Linked DNA regions of Homo sapiens. The protein of the gene in region 2 interacts with the protein of the main gene of each other region in a biochemical or structural test. Each region holds a gene or a part of one and is shown on either strand. Other genes may lie near its edges. The genes, in order: GRIP1, CARM1 and MEF2D.

Region 1 (3,822 bases), on a different chromosome or scaffold from region 2:
ATCGCTTGAACCTGGGAGGCATAGGTTGCAGTGAGCCAAGATCACGCCACTGCACTCCAGCCTGGATGACAAGAGAGAAACTCTGTCTGAAATAAATAAATACATAGATACATTTTGTTACTGTTAGAATCCATCCTTGGTTCTGTTCTCTTCTTTGTTATAAGGCCACCAAGGGCAACTTGTCCTAAACCCCACCCTTCAGTATCCTAAATCTTTAACTCTGGCTCTAATATCTCTCCTCACCAACAGATCCAAACCACCAAATGCTTCCCAGACTGCTCTATCACAATGTGCTGAAAATATTAAAGACTCATTAGTTCTGAAAGAGCTGTCTTATCTTACCTACCCCTACCTGGACTCCTTGCCTGTGATCTTCTCCTCCCCAACCCACCTTCGATAAACCCATAATAATATTGTATTGCCTTTCTATGTTACCAATTATATCATTATCCTGCTTAAGAAACTAATATGCCTCCAGCATAAAGTTCAAGAGCTTTACCATCACATTCAAGGCCCTTTATAATCTGAATGTAGTCTACTTTTACAGCCTCAACTGCGATGAGAGTAGAGCTAGCTCTATTTATGGATTAGGAAGACACTCATAGAAGGTAAGTAACTTGTCCATAGTTATTCATTCAGCAAATATTAGCATGTCTGCGGAAAACTAAGTGTCCCCAAACTCCTAGGATAAGACTAATTGTTCTATTGCCATAGTAAAAATCATCACCAGAATTGATTCCAAAACTATCAAATTGATCAGTGACAACTTGCTTCAGCGAACACATCCCTGAAAGCCAACCAATGAGTGGCAGCCTCCTGCTTTGAAAGTCAGCTGTTTGGTGACAAACTGTTTCCAGGTGAGTACACTGCTAAGACTGACTTCAACCCACTCCATTTTCCTGCAAAATGCTCTTCCCAAAAACTGTACATAAGATCAGAAATCTGCTTTCCTAAATAAAACTATACCTGACCTCAATGTTACTATATTTAAAGTAAGCAAGGTTCAGCTTTTTGGTTTCAGATATTGTGAGAGATACTGAGATATCAAATACCACATAATGGGAAATGAGAGAATAAGGTACTATCCCTGCTCTCAAAAAGTTTACAATCTGCTGGGGAGTATATGCAGGGAAACAGGAAGGTGGTTTTTTTTTTTTTTTTTTTGGAAACTCACTCTGCACCCAGGCTGGAGTACAGTGGCATGATCTCGGCTCACTGCAACCTCTGAACAGGCAGTTTTAATAATGTAAATTCTACCAAAAGCAAAAGCTGCTGTTCGATATAGGAGGGGCCCCTAGTCCAGACTTGAGGTAAAGGAGGTTGGGTGGTGTCTGGTGAAGTTAGGCTTTGAAGGGGAGTCCTCTAAACTAGTGGTTTTCAATTTGGCTGCTCACTGGAATCACTGGGGGAGGTGTAAAAACACACCGATGCCGTATCTGTCTCCTAGAGTCGCTGGTTTAATTGGTCTGGCATTTGATTGAACATTGGGATACATTCTCTAGGTGATTCCATTTTTTCAATCAAGGTTGAGAATCGCTGATCTATGTGAGACCAAAAAGTTGAGTCGGAATGAGGCAGGTAAGGCCTAGGGATTAGAAGAGCATTCAGAGAAAGGAAAGAGTATATAAGGCTCAGAGCCAATGCGCTTCTATTCTGCTGTGCAGTACTGAGCACTTTTATGTGACAGCATTGTTCTTGGAACTGAGAATAGAGTGGAGAATAAAATCGCTGCCCTCATGGAGTTACATTCTAGTGGGCAACACAGAATAAGCAAATAACTAGCATCATCTGTGGTTGTACTGCGAACCAAGAAAGAAGGGTGAAGAATGGAGAGGCAGGAAAGGCCCTTTTAGACGGAGTGGTTTAAGTCGCAGCATGTGAGCAGGGACCTGAAGTAGAGGAAGGAGCAGGGAAAGAGCCTGTGCATGTTTAGCAGAGAAGCGCCACAAGCTCAGGGCACAGCAGGTGCAAAGGCCAGGAGGTGGCAGCATACACCATTCCTGAAACAAATCCAGCTGAAGCTAGAGAGTATACGAAGAGGTTGCGCACAGTGGCTCACACCTATAATCCCAGCACTTTGGGAGGCCGAGGTGGGTGGATCACTTGAGGTCAGGAGTATGAGACCAGCCTGGCCAACCTGGTGAAACACGGTCTCTACTAAAAATACAAAAATTAGCCACGCATGGTGGTGTGCACCTGTAATCCCAGCTACTCGGGAGGCTGAGGCAGGAGAATCACTTGAATGCAGGAGGCAGAGGTTGCAGTGAGTTAAGATCGTGCCACTGCACTCCAGCCTGAGACTCTGTCTCAAAAAAAAAAAAAAAAGGAAAAAAGATTCTAACTAACTTTCCATCAACTTCAAAAGGTCCGTCATCAACCCTCCAATTAGTTAGCAAATTGCATTCTGGCTGGGTGTGGTGGAAGGCACCTGTAATCCCAGCTACTTGGGAGGCCGAGGCAGGAGAATCTCTTGAACCTGCAAGGTGGCGGTTGCAGTGAACCAAGATCACGCCACTCCACTCCAGTGACAGAGCGAGACTCTGTCTCAAAAATGAATGAATGAATGAATGAAGAGGCAAGACAAGATGCTGGCAAGGTAAGGAGAGGCCAAATCCCTGGGGCCTTGTAGGTCATGTAGAAGACAAGTGGTAGGAAGGACTAGACTGGTGGTGCCTGGAGTCGGATAACTACGTCATATTTATGGGACTACTGTGCGATGGTGGGAGATGACCGTGGTTGGGTGAAATCTGTGAGATTGGGAAAGATGGCTCTGAGCTCAGTGCCGAAAAAAACTGGTAAGAAACCACAGAACTTTGGGGTCTGGGTTAGAATTTACTAGAGCTGAAAATTCTTTATTCAGCTGTTTGCTTCTACTGATTCCATAATCTTGATGACAAAGGCTGAAAGGGAAAAGAGCAAAGGGCCCCAAATATGCAGGAGGATGTGGAGGAAGCTCCCAGTGAGAAATTACTTGCAAGGAATTAAAATTCCACCTGAGGTCTTACCTGTAAGAGCCTGTCATAGGGCTTTAAGCCACCAAGATCTCCTGGCCCAGCTGGGCGAATATTTTTGACATACACTCCTTTCTCCAGTAAGCCATCTGCTACACTGAACCCAAAGTCCTCCATGTCAGAGTCCTTGTACAAGGTCACCTGAAGAGAGAAAATGGGATGTGAATATTTAGCTGGGGTGGAGACTTTTCCTTCTGCAACTTCTTGATGAACAATCTTTTCACACGAATTTAGTCACATCATGATTTGTAATATCAGCATCAGTCAGCTCCCTGCACCAATCCTGCAGCCTTTTTTTCCCACTCCAAGAATATCTTTGGACTTTATGAATTCCCAACCAAAGCTGAAAAAGGAGGAGAACTGGAACGTCTGGGTCCTCCCTCCCTCCTTTTCAGTCGTCATCAGGGGGATATAGGAGAGAACTTCCTCAAGGCAAGTTGACTTCTACTATTTTCCTGGGGCAACCTCTGGTCAGAGGAGCTGCCCGCAGCAGCCCTTTACAACTGCTGAGATGTTGGGGAATAAGCCAAAGGCCTTTCCTTCCTCCCCACTCCTGCCTGGTGCTCTGCTAAGCACAGTGCTCGGCGTATCCTCTCTTTGGGCAAGTACCATGAAGTTCATCCTTTTATTTGCTCTGGAACCCCCAATGAGCACCATCACAGAACACTATGTAAAAGACCTGAATGTGTCTCTATGACAACACCTTGCTCTGCACCTCGGCTTAACTCGCTCCCTCAGCATTTGTCTAGGGTTTGATTTGGTAACTGAAGGCATCTACCCTGAGTGCTGCGGCCTGCCCCCCACCCCGGGT
Region 2 (3,822 bases):
AGACACAGACCCATGAGGGACAGACACTGGGAACACAGGACACACACACACATACACACACACACACACACACCCCACCCACAACAGTCTCTTGCTCCGAGACAGGCTCTCACTCCCATTGGAAGGGATGGTGGAACCTGGAGCCATGTTCCACCCCCCCAGCCAGGTTGCAGCTGCAGGAAGCCCTGGGAGTGGGGAGGAGGCAGCATGGGCTGCTCTGCGGCACTCACATGGAGCCGATGAAAGCAACGTCAAACCAGAAAGCCAGGCCGTGGACCAGCCCTGAATGCAGCATGTGGAATTTGAATGGGATTTCTATCCTGGAAGGCAAAGGGCAGTGGCTGCTGGGGAAGCCAGACAGGCGCTGCCGAGAGAGAAGAGGGGGTGCCAGGTGCAGAGGCCTGGGGCCCCCGCCCACCATCTGCCCTGGGACGGCAGGATGCCGGCGGGAGCCAGGGGTGGCCCTGACCTTCGGCCTGAGCCAGGCCTGGGAGGATGGAGTGTGGGTGCCAGTACCTGTGCAAATCTCCTTCTTTGGCTTCTAAGAAGTTCACCGTGTACTTGACAGACTTGGCCATCAGGATCCGGATGTCAAATGTGTCCTGGGAGAGACCACAGGTGTGACGTGGCATCTGACGCCAGGGCCAGCATGGGAGGGGAGAGCCCTGCCCCTTCCCCCAGGTCTGCCCACGGCTTCTAGGCTGTGCAGCTAAAACGAGCTTGCTCTTCCCAGACACGCCGTGAGGAGGGGACCGGCACAACGCCACCGAGGGCAATCAGGTGACAGCTCTCCAAATGACAAGTGTTTATCCACATAAAAGATTTGGCACTACAGGAGTTTAACCTCCAGATACATGAACACATCAACAAACTTACATGTATAATTAGATTGTCCGTGGTAGCGACACACTGGAAACCATCTAATTAAACCAGTGATGGCTCTCCCATCAAAGACCATGCGGACGTGAGAAAGAATGAAGAGGCTCTTTATGAACAGATGAGGAAAGATCTCCAAGCTAAATCATTAAGCAAGTTAACCAAAAAAGCAAGTTAAAGAACTAGGTGCTAGCTGGGTGTGGAATTGTATGCCTGTAACTCCAGCTACTCAGGAGGCTGAGGCAGGAGGATCGCTTAAGCCCGAGAGTGTGAATCAAGCCTGGGAAACACAGGGAGACCCTGTCTCTTAAAAACAACAACAACACTAGTGCTGCTGTCCACTCCCAGCAATGTTTATATCCGACTAACACACCTGCCATGAACTATGTAAACCGAATAAAATCCAAAGAAAAGAATAAACCAGTTGTTGGAAGCACTGGTGACCAACCAGAGCGGCCAGGATTTTGGGGATCAAGCTCCTGGAAAGGAGGGAAATGCCCTTTCTGGAGGGAGCCCTTTCTGGCCTCTACCTTTTCCCCATGGGGAGGGCAGAAAACGGCCACCTCGACCTTTCAGCAGCTTCCTTGGGTGGGGAAAGCAAAATGGGAGCTCAGGGTTACCAAGGCAGCTCGGATTCAAGGGGCTGTGATGTCAAAGCAAAGGGAAATAAGTGCAGGAGGGCAAGGTGGGCGGTGCACACTCAGTGCGCTTGTGAAATTGGCCAACTCCTGAGCTTTGAGCGAGGCAGGGCATCAGAGGCTAAGACACCAAGCAGAAAGCCGCTAATAAGAGGCTCAACGCCAGGTGCAGTGGCTTATGCCTATAATCCCAGCACTTTGGGAGGCCGAGGCGGACGGATCACCTGAGGTCAGGAGTTCAAGACCAGCCTGAGTAACACAGTGAGGCCCCATATCTACAAAAAAATAAATTAGCCGGGCATGGTGGCACACTCCTATAGTTCCAGCTACTTGGGAAGCTGAGGCAGGAGGATCACTTGCGTCTGGGAGATCGAGGCTGAAGTAAGCCATGAAGTGATTGAGCCACTGTACTCCAGCCTGGGGAACAGAGTGAGATCCTGTTTCAAAAAACAATAAAAGCTAACGGGTGGTTCAGCAGCATATTGGTAATGAGGCTAACCACTGGACTTGCATTAACATTACCAAAGGCTGTACCATAAAGCAGCACCTTCTCAAACTGTGGCCTCTTCCAAGGCACCCTCATCATAATACAAAATTTGCATAATACCACCAAAATATTTCCTGCTTTTTTCACTCATTCACTCCCCAGTGATATCACAAAAGACTGAACACGCTGGGCATGGTGGCTCACGCCTGTAATCCCAGCACTTTGGGAGGCCGAGGCAGGCGGATCACCTAAGGTCAGGAGTTTCAGACCAGCCTGGCCAACATGGCGAAACCCCATCTCTACTAAAATTACAAAAAACTAGCTGGGAGTGGTGGCAAGCGCCTGTACTCCCAGCTACTCAGGAGTCTGAGAATCGCTTGAGCCCGGAAAGTGGAGGTTGCAGTGAGCTGACATCATGCCACAGCACTCCAGCCTGGGCAACAGAGCAAGACTCCGTCTCAAAAAAAAAAAAAAAAAGAAAAAGAAAATGAGAGAAAAAAATGGATGGAAAAGACAGAAAAGAGTATAACAATCATCTGAGATATGGTGAAAAGGTTCACTGTACACGTAATTGGAATCCCAGAAGGAGAAAGAATGGGGCAGACGTAGTGTTTAAAGAGATAGTATCCAAGATAGTCCAAGAGTCTCCCAAAACGAATGAAAAACATCAAGAGCAGGGGGAAAACAGAATAAAATGGAACCTTTTTTTCTTTTTTTTTGAGACGGAGTCTCACTCTGTCGCCCAGGCTGGAGTGCAGTGGTGCGATCTCGGCTCACTGCAAGCTCTGCCTCCCGGGTTCACGCCATTCTCCTGCCTCAGCCTCCTGAGTAGCTGGGACTACAGGCGCCCGCCACCACGTCTGGCTAATTTTTTGTATTTTTAGTAGAGATGGGGTTTCACCGTGTTGGTCTCAATCTCCTAACCTCGTGATCTGCCCGCCTTGGCCTCCCAAAGTGCTGGGATTACAGGTGTGACCCACTGCACCTAGCTTTTTTTTCCTTTTGATTTTTAAATCATGGATCTATGTATCAAAAATCTCAAGTAAAATCAATCAATAAATCACATCAGCTCACCAAGGATAAATTCATCTAGTAATGGTTCTTTTTTATTTTTATTATTTATTTATTTTAATTTTAAAAATAGCGATGGCGTCTCTGTGTTGCCCAGGCTGATCTTGAACTCCTGAGCCTAAATGCCCCCTCTGCCTTAGCCTCACCTAATAATGTTCCACATGTATTGCATGTGTGCTGTGTGCTAAGTGTCTACATGCATTGACACTTTTGGCCCAAATCTCTGTGAGAGCGCTGTGCAGGGCAGAGGAGAGGGCTCAGAGAGGGGCTGTAGCTTCCTGAGGGCTGCACAGCTGCACAGCAATGGCAAGTGATCACTGCAGCAGTACCCTGGAGGCCCTACTCACCACCACAGGCTGCCGGAAATACTCATCCACCGCGGCACCTCGGAGGGCCGACAGGTCCACTCCATGGAAAGATGGCTGGTACCTGTGGACAGGCCCCACCCCCACAGCAAGGTCAGGGCTGCAGAAGAGGCAGGTGGGGTAGCCCTGCCTTCTCTCCCAGTCAGCCCTCATCTAGCCCAAGTCTTTCAGAAAAAGAGGAGTGCAGGCTCTCTGGGGAGCTGGGGCTGTCCCTGAGAAGGCAGGCTGTGGGGCCCAGGCGGGACACCCAGGGCACACTCACCAGAAGTTGGCCTTGGTGAACTGCTCCATGTAGAGCTGTTCATCCGTGAAGGGTGCAAGGTGGACGTCACCAATGGTAGGAAACATGTTTCCTGGGAGTGGGGCAGGGAGGGGTGCTGGCGTC
Region 3 (3,600 bases), on a different chromosome or scaffold from region 2:
AGGGGAGGGGAGCAAGAACAACAGCAGAAGAATCTCGTCTGTACAGTACGGGCCGTTTGAGTCATTATTATTACAATATACTTTGACAAAAATAGAATCTCATTTCATATCAATACAACAACAACAAAAAAAAACAGTTTCCTGGACTGTTACACCGCTAACGTTTTCCAAAGGTCGCTATTTACAATTACAGTAGCCAAGAGGGAAGGTGGGATGCAGCCTGGAGGTGGTGGGACAAGGAGGTAGCCAGAGACAATAGGGGCGCCAAGAGCAAGGAGGTGGGGTCAGGAGCAGAAGGAGCTAACAGGAGAAGCTAGGGAGAGGGGCCAAGGAGGAATGAGGGAGGTGGGACCTCTACGGACCCATCCGTAGGCCCTCCCACCCCACAGACCATCCCAGTGTTGACTCCCCCAGGTAGTGTGCGTGCAAGACCAAGGACGTCCCCTCACCACACTCGCCCCAATGAAAGAGCTCTGGCCTGGAGCACCCCAGGGAAGTCCAGGCCGACTCTCGCCCCAGCCACCTCACTGAAGACCCTCTCCCCATTCTCCCTGCACACTGTGGCCAGCTTTACAGGGCTGGCGTCAACTGAGGGGTGGGGAGCTATTGCACTGTATATCTTAGAGAAAAACTGGGGAAGGGAGGGGCTCAATTTGCCCCCTGCCTAGCCCTTCTGCCCTCCTCAGCCCTCTCCTCATGGCTCTCTTGTCTTTCCCTCCAAATGTGCTTCCAGAGAGGCCCCCACCTCAAACCCCTGTCTCCAGCCTCAGATTCCCAGGCTGCCTTCCCGGCCCAAAGCTCAGCCAGCACCCACACACCTTGGGGGTGCAGCACACACAAGAATCAGCGCAGGTGTGGCACGTGTGTGTGCAGGGGCATTTGGGGGCCAGGCTTAAGTATTCTGCTCCATGTGCCTATGGCTACATGAACACAAAAACAGAGACCCTTTTCAGAACCTCTGCCTCACTTTCCCCTTGAAACACAAACCCACCCATCAAGCCCACTTTGGGGTTTCAGTCTAGAGTGTGGGTTTCTGTTGTTTGGTAGTTTTTTGGTTATTTCCCTCTATCTGGGGGTGGGGTGGGAGGGCTCCACATGCAGGGCTCGGCACCTGTCCTTTCCCAAAGGCCTTATTGGGCCCCCCACCCCCTTCCTGCAGCATATGTGTACAACGTGCAAAGTGTCCCCCCTTCCCGCGAAAAAGAGAGCCCCCCAGCCAGTGAAAATGGTGGGGGGTACAGAAAGAGGGGATGAGAGCATCCCCCTCTCCAAAGCGAGAATCCAAATTAAAAAAAATATAATAATAATAATAATAATATAATAATTATACACAAATGTAACCGTCAACAGGACACGAAGCACAAGAAAGGAAGTGGGGGTCGAGCGGGAGGAGCCCGGGGCAGGGAAGGGCGGGCGGTGAGATTGTCAACTCTTCATCAGGGAGGCTGAGAGGAGGGGAGTGGGAATCGTCACTTTAATGTCTGTGAAGAGAGGAGATGGAGAAGGGGGTGTGAGGGGGTGGCCCAGGCTTTGGGTATGCACCCCCCACTCCCCTCTCCCCATAGGGCCAGGATTCTAGTGGCAGGGCCAGCTGTGAGGGGAAGAAGTCATCGAGCAGAAGGACTGATGCTGGAGGGAGGGAGAAGATGGGCCTTTGGCAGGGGTGAAGGGGTGTTGGTGCTGCCCTAGAAGGGCTGGCGGAAGGGGTAGCCGGCCACAAGGCCTCTTGGGTGGGAAATAAAACAGGTTAGGGGGCACGCGGGGCAGTCCCTGGGTGTAGCAGACACTGGCAGACAGGAGAGGTGATGCTACAGTACCCAGGTATCAAGCCGCATCCTCTTCACAGCTGAGCCCTCAGCCTCAGGCTCTGGGGCTGGGCGCAGCAGGCCCAGTGTGGGCCCGAAGTCCCCCCGTCCGTCATCCCGGTCTCCCGTCTCATAGGATCCCCCGGCTGGGCTGCTGAGACCATCGCCAGGCTCAGGGCGGGCAGCTGGGAACACAGCTGGAGGGGGAGGCGCAGGGCTGCGCTCACGGCTTGGGGACACCGGTTCTGACTTGATGCTGATGTGGGGGTGGGTGGTGACTGTGAGGGCAGCACCCACGTGGGGCAGGGGGCTGCCCGGGCTGGAGGCAGGCAATGGAAATGGGGTACAAGGGATAAAAACAGAGGGGGTGAGTGACAGAACAAGTGATAGGACACCAGACAGAAAGTGAGAGAGAACAAGAGGATGAGAATATGGGGGATGGGGTGTTGGGGAGAGGCAATTGGATGGAGAGTGATCAGAAGAGGGTCGAATGAAGGGAAGAGAAGGGAAATAAGAAATATTAGTTCTCTTTCCATCCCATGTCATCTTCTGCAACACAGGGCCCCCCACCTCCCACCCCCTACCCTGGGGCTGGCTCTCAGAAGGGGTTCAGGGTGAGCCTCTTGGGTCTGTACAAGAGAGCCCAGGGGTGCCACTGTTGCCTAACAGACTGTGCAGTGCACAGCCTCATAGGATGTCCACTAGAACCCTGCAGGGAACCCAGCTCCCAAGAGGTCCCTCCTCTTCCCGTTCAATTCTCCCTTCCCACACACTCACATGCAGTCTCCCCAGGACTCACATGAGGTTGCTGAGAGATACAGGGACCAGGTGGGACTGTTGCTGAGGTGGCTGTTGCGGCTGCTGAGGCTGCTGTGGCTGTGGCTGCTGTGGCTGCGGTGGCTGCTGCTGTGGAGGCTGTGGCTGCTGCGGCTGCTGGGGCTGCTGTGGCTGTTGCCAGGCAGTGACATTGCCTAGCGACAGCCCCCCAGGTGAACTAAAGGCTGGTAAGGAGGAGAGCTCTGCACTGGTCAACTGGTAATCTGCATGGAGGAAAAGTGAGGATGAACCTGGAGTTGGGGAGAGCACACAGGCTCCTATGAGGGAGCTGCCTCCAGGAGGACTGTGGGGATGAGGGGACAGGGAGTGTGTAATGACAGATGTAAGGAATTCAAGAAGACCACAAAAATTCAGTGAAGACGGTACTCAGAGTTAAAGAAACCTAAGTCATAATAACCATGAGGTGCTGTGTTTTAACAGGATGAAAAGATGTGGTTTTTGTTTTGTTTTGTTTTTTTGAGATGGAGTCTCACTCTATTGCCCAGGCTGGAGTGCAGTGGTGTGATCTTGGCTCACTACAACCTCTGCCTCCCACGTTCAAGCAAATCTCCTGCCTCGGCCTCCTAAATGGCTGGGATTACAGGCACATGCCACCACGCCCAGCTAATTTTTGTATTTTTAGTAGAGATGGGGTTTTGCTATGCTGGCAAGGCTGGTCTCAAACTCCTGACCTCAAGTGATTCGCCCACCTCGGCCTCCCAAAGTGCTGGGATTACAGGCATGAGCCACCGCATCCGACCAAGAGGTGGTTTTTAAAAATAGTGTTGAACTTAAAAAAAAAAAAAAAAACAGCTGGGCGAGTGGCTCATGTCTATAATCCCAGCACTTTGAGAGGTCAAGGCAGAAGGACCACTTGAGCCCAGAGTTTGAGACCAGACTGGGCAACATAAGGAGACTCCATCTCTACAAATAGCTTAAAAATTAGCTAGGGTGGTGGGGTGCACTGTAGTTCCAGTTA

What was found.
Region 1: the proteins of CARM1 (region 2) and GRIP1 form a complex in vitro, tested with the Homo sapiens proteins (2 studies listed by BioGRID).
Region 3: the proteins of CARM1 (region 2) and MEF2D form a complex in vitro, tested with the Homo sapiens proteins (one study listed by BioGRID).

What each region holds. Positions count from the first base shown.
Region 1 is NC_000012.12:66,350,412-66,354,233, forward strand, and holds part of GRIP1 (glutamate receptor-interacting protein 1), read right to left. Parts: intron 3,153-3,822; coding exon 3,006-3,152; intron 1-3,005. UniProt on the Homo sapiens protein: May play a role as a localized scaffold for the assembly of a multiprotein signaling complex and as mediator of the trafficking of its binding partners at specific subcellular location in neurons.
Region 2 is NC_000019.10:10,916,375-10,920,196, reverse strand, and holds part of CARM1 (histone-arginine methyltransferase CARM1), read right to left. Parts: intron 3,791-3,822; coding exon 3,700-3,790; intron 3,502-3,699; coding exon 3,420-3,501; intron 603-3,419; coding exon 517-602; intron 321-516; coding exon 231-320; intron 1-230. UniProt on the Homo sapiens protein: Methylates (mono- and asymmetric dimethylation) the guanidino nitrogens of arginyl residues in several proteins involved in DNA packaging, transcription regulation, pre-mRNA splicing, and mRNA stability.
Region 3 is NC_000001.11:156,466,176-156,469,775, forward strand, and holds part of MEF2D (myocyte-specific enhancer factor 2D), read right to left. Parts: intron 2,846-3,600; coding exon 2,605-2,845; intron 2,125-2,604; coding exon 1,818-2,124; intron 1,482-1,817; coding exon 1,470-1,481; 3' UTR 1-1,469. UniProt on the Homo sapiens protein: Transcriptional activator which binds specifically to the MEF2 element, 5'-YTA[AT](4)TAR-3', found in numerous muscle-specific, growth factor- and stress-induced genes.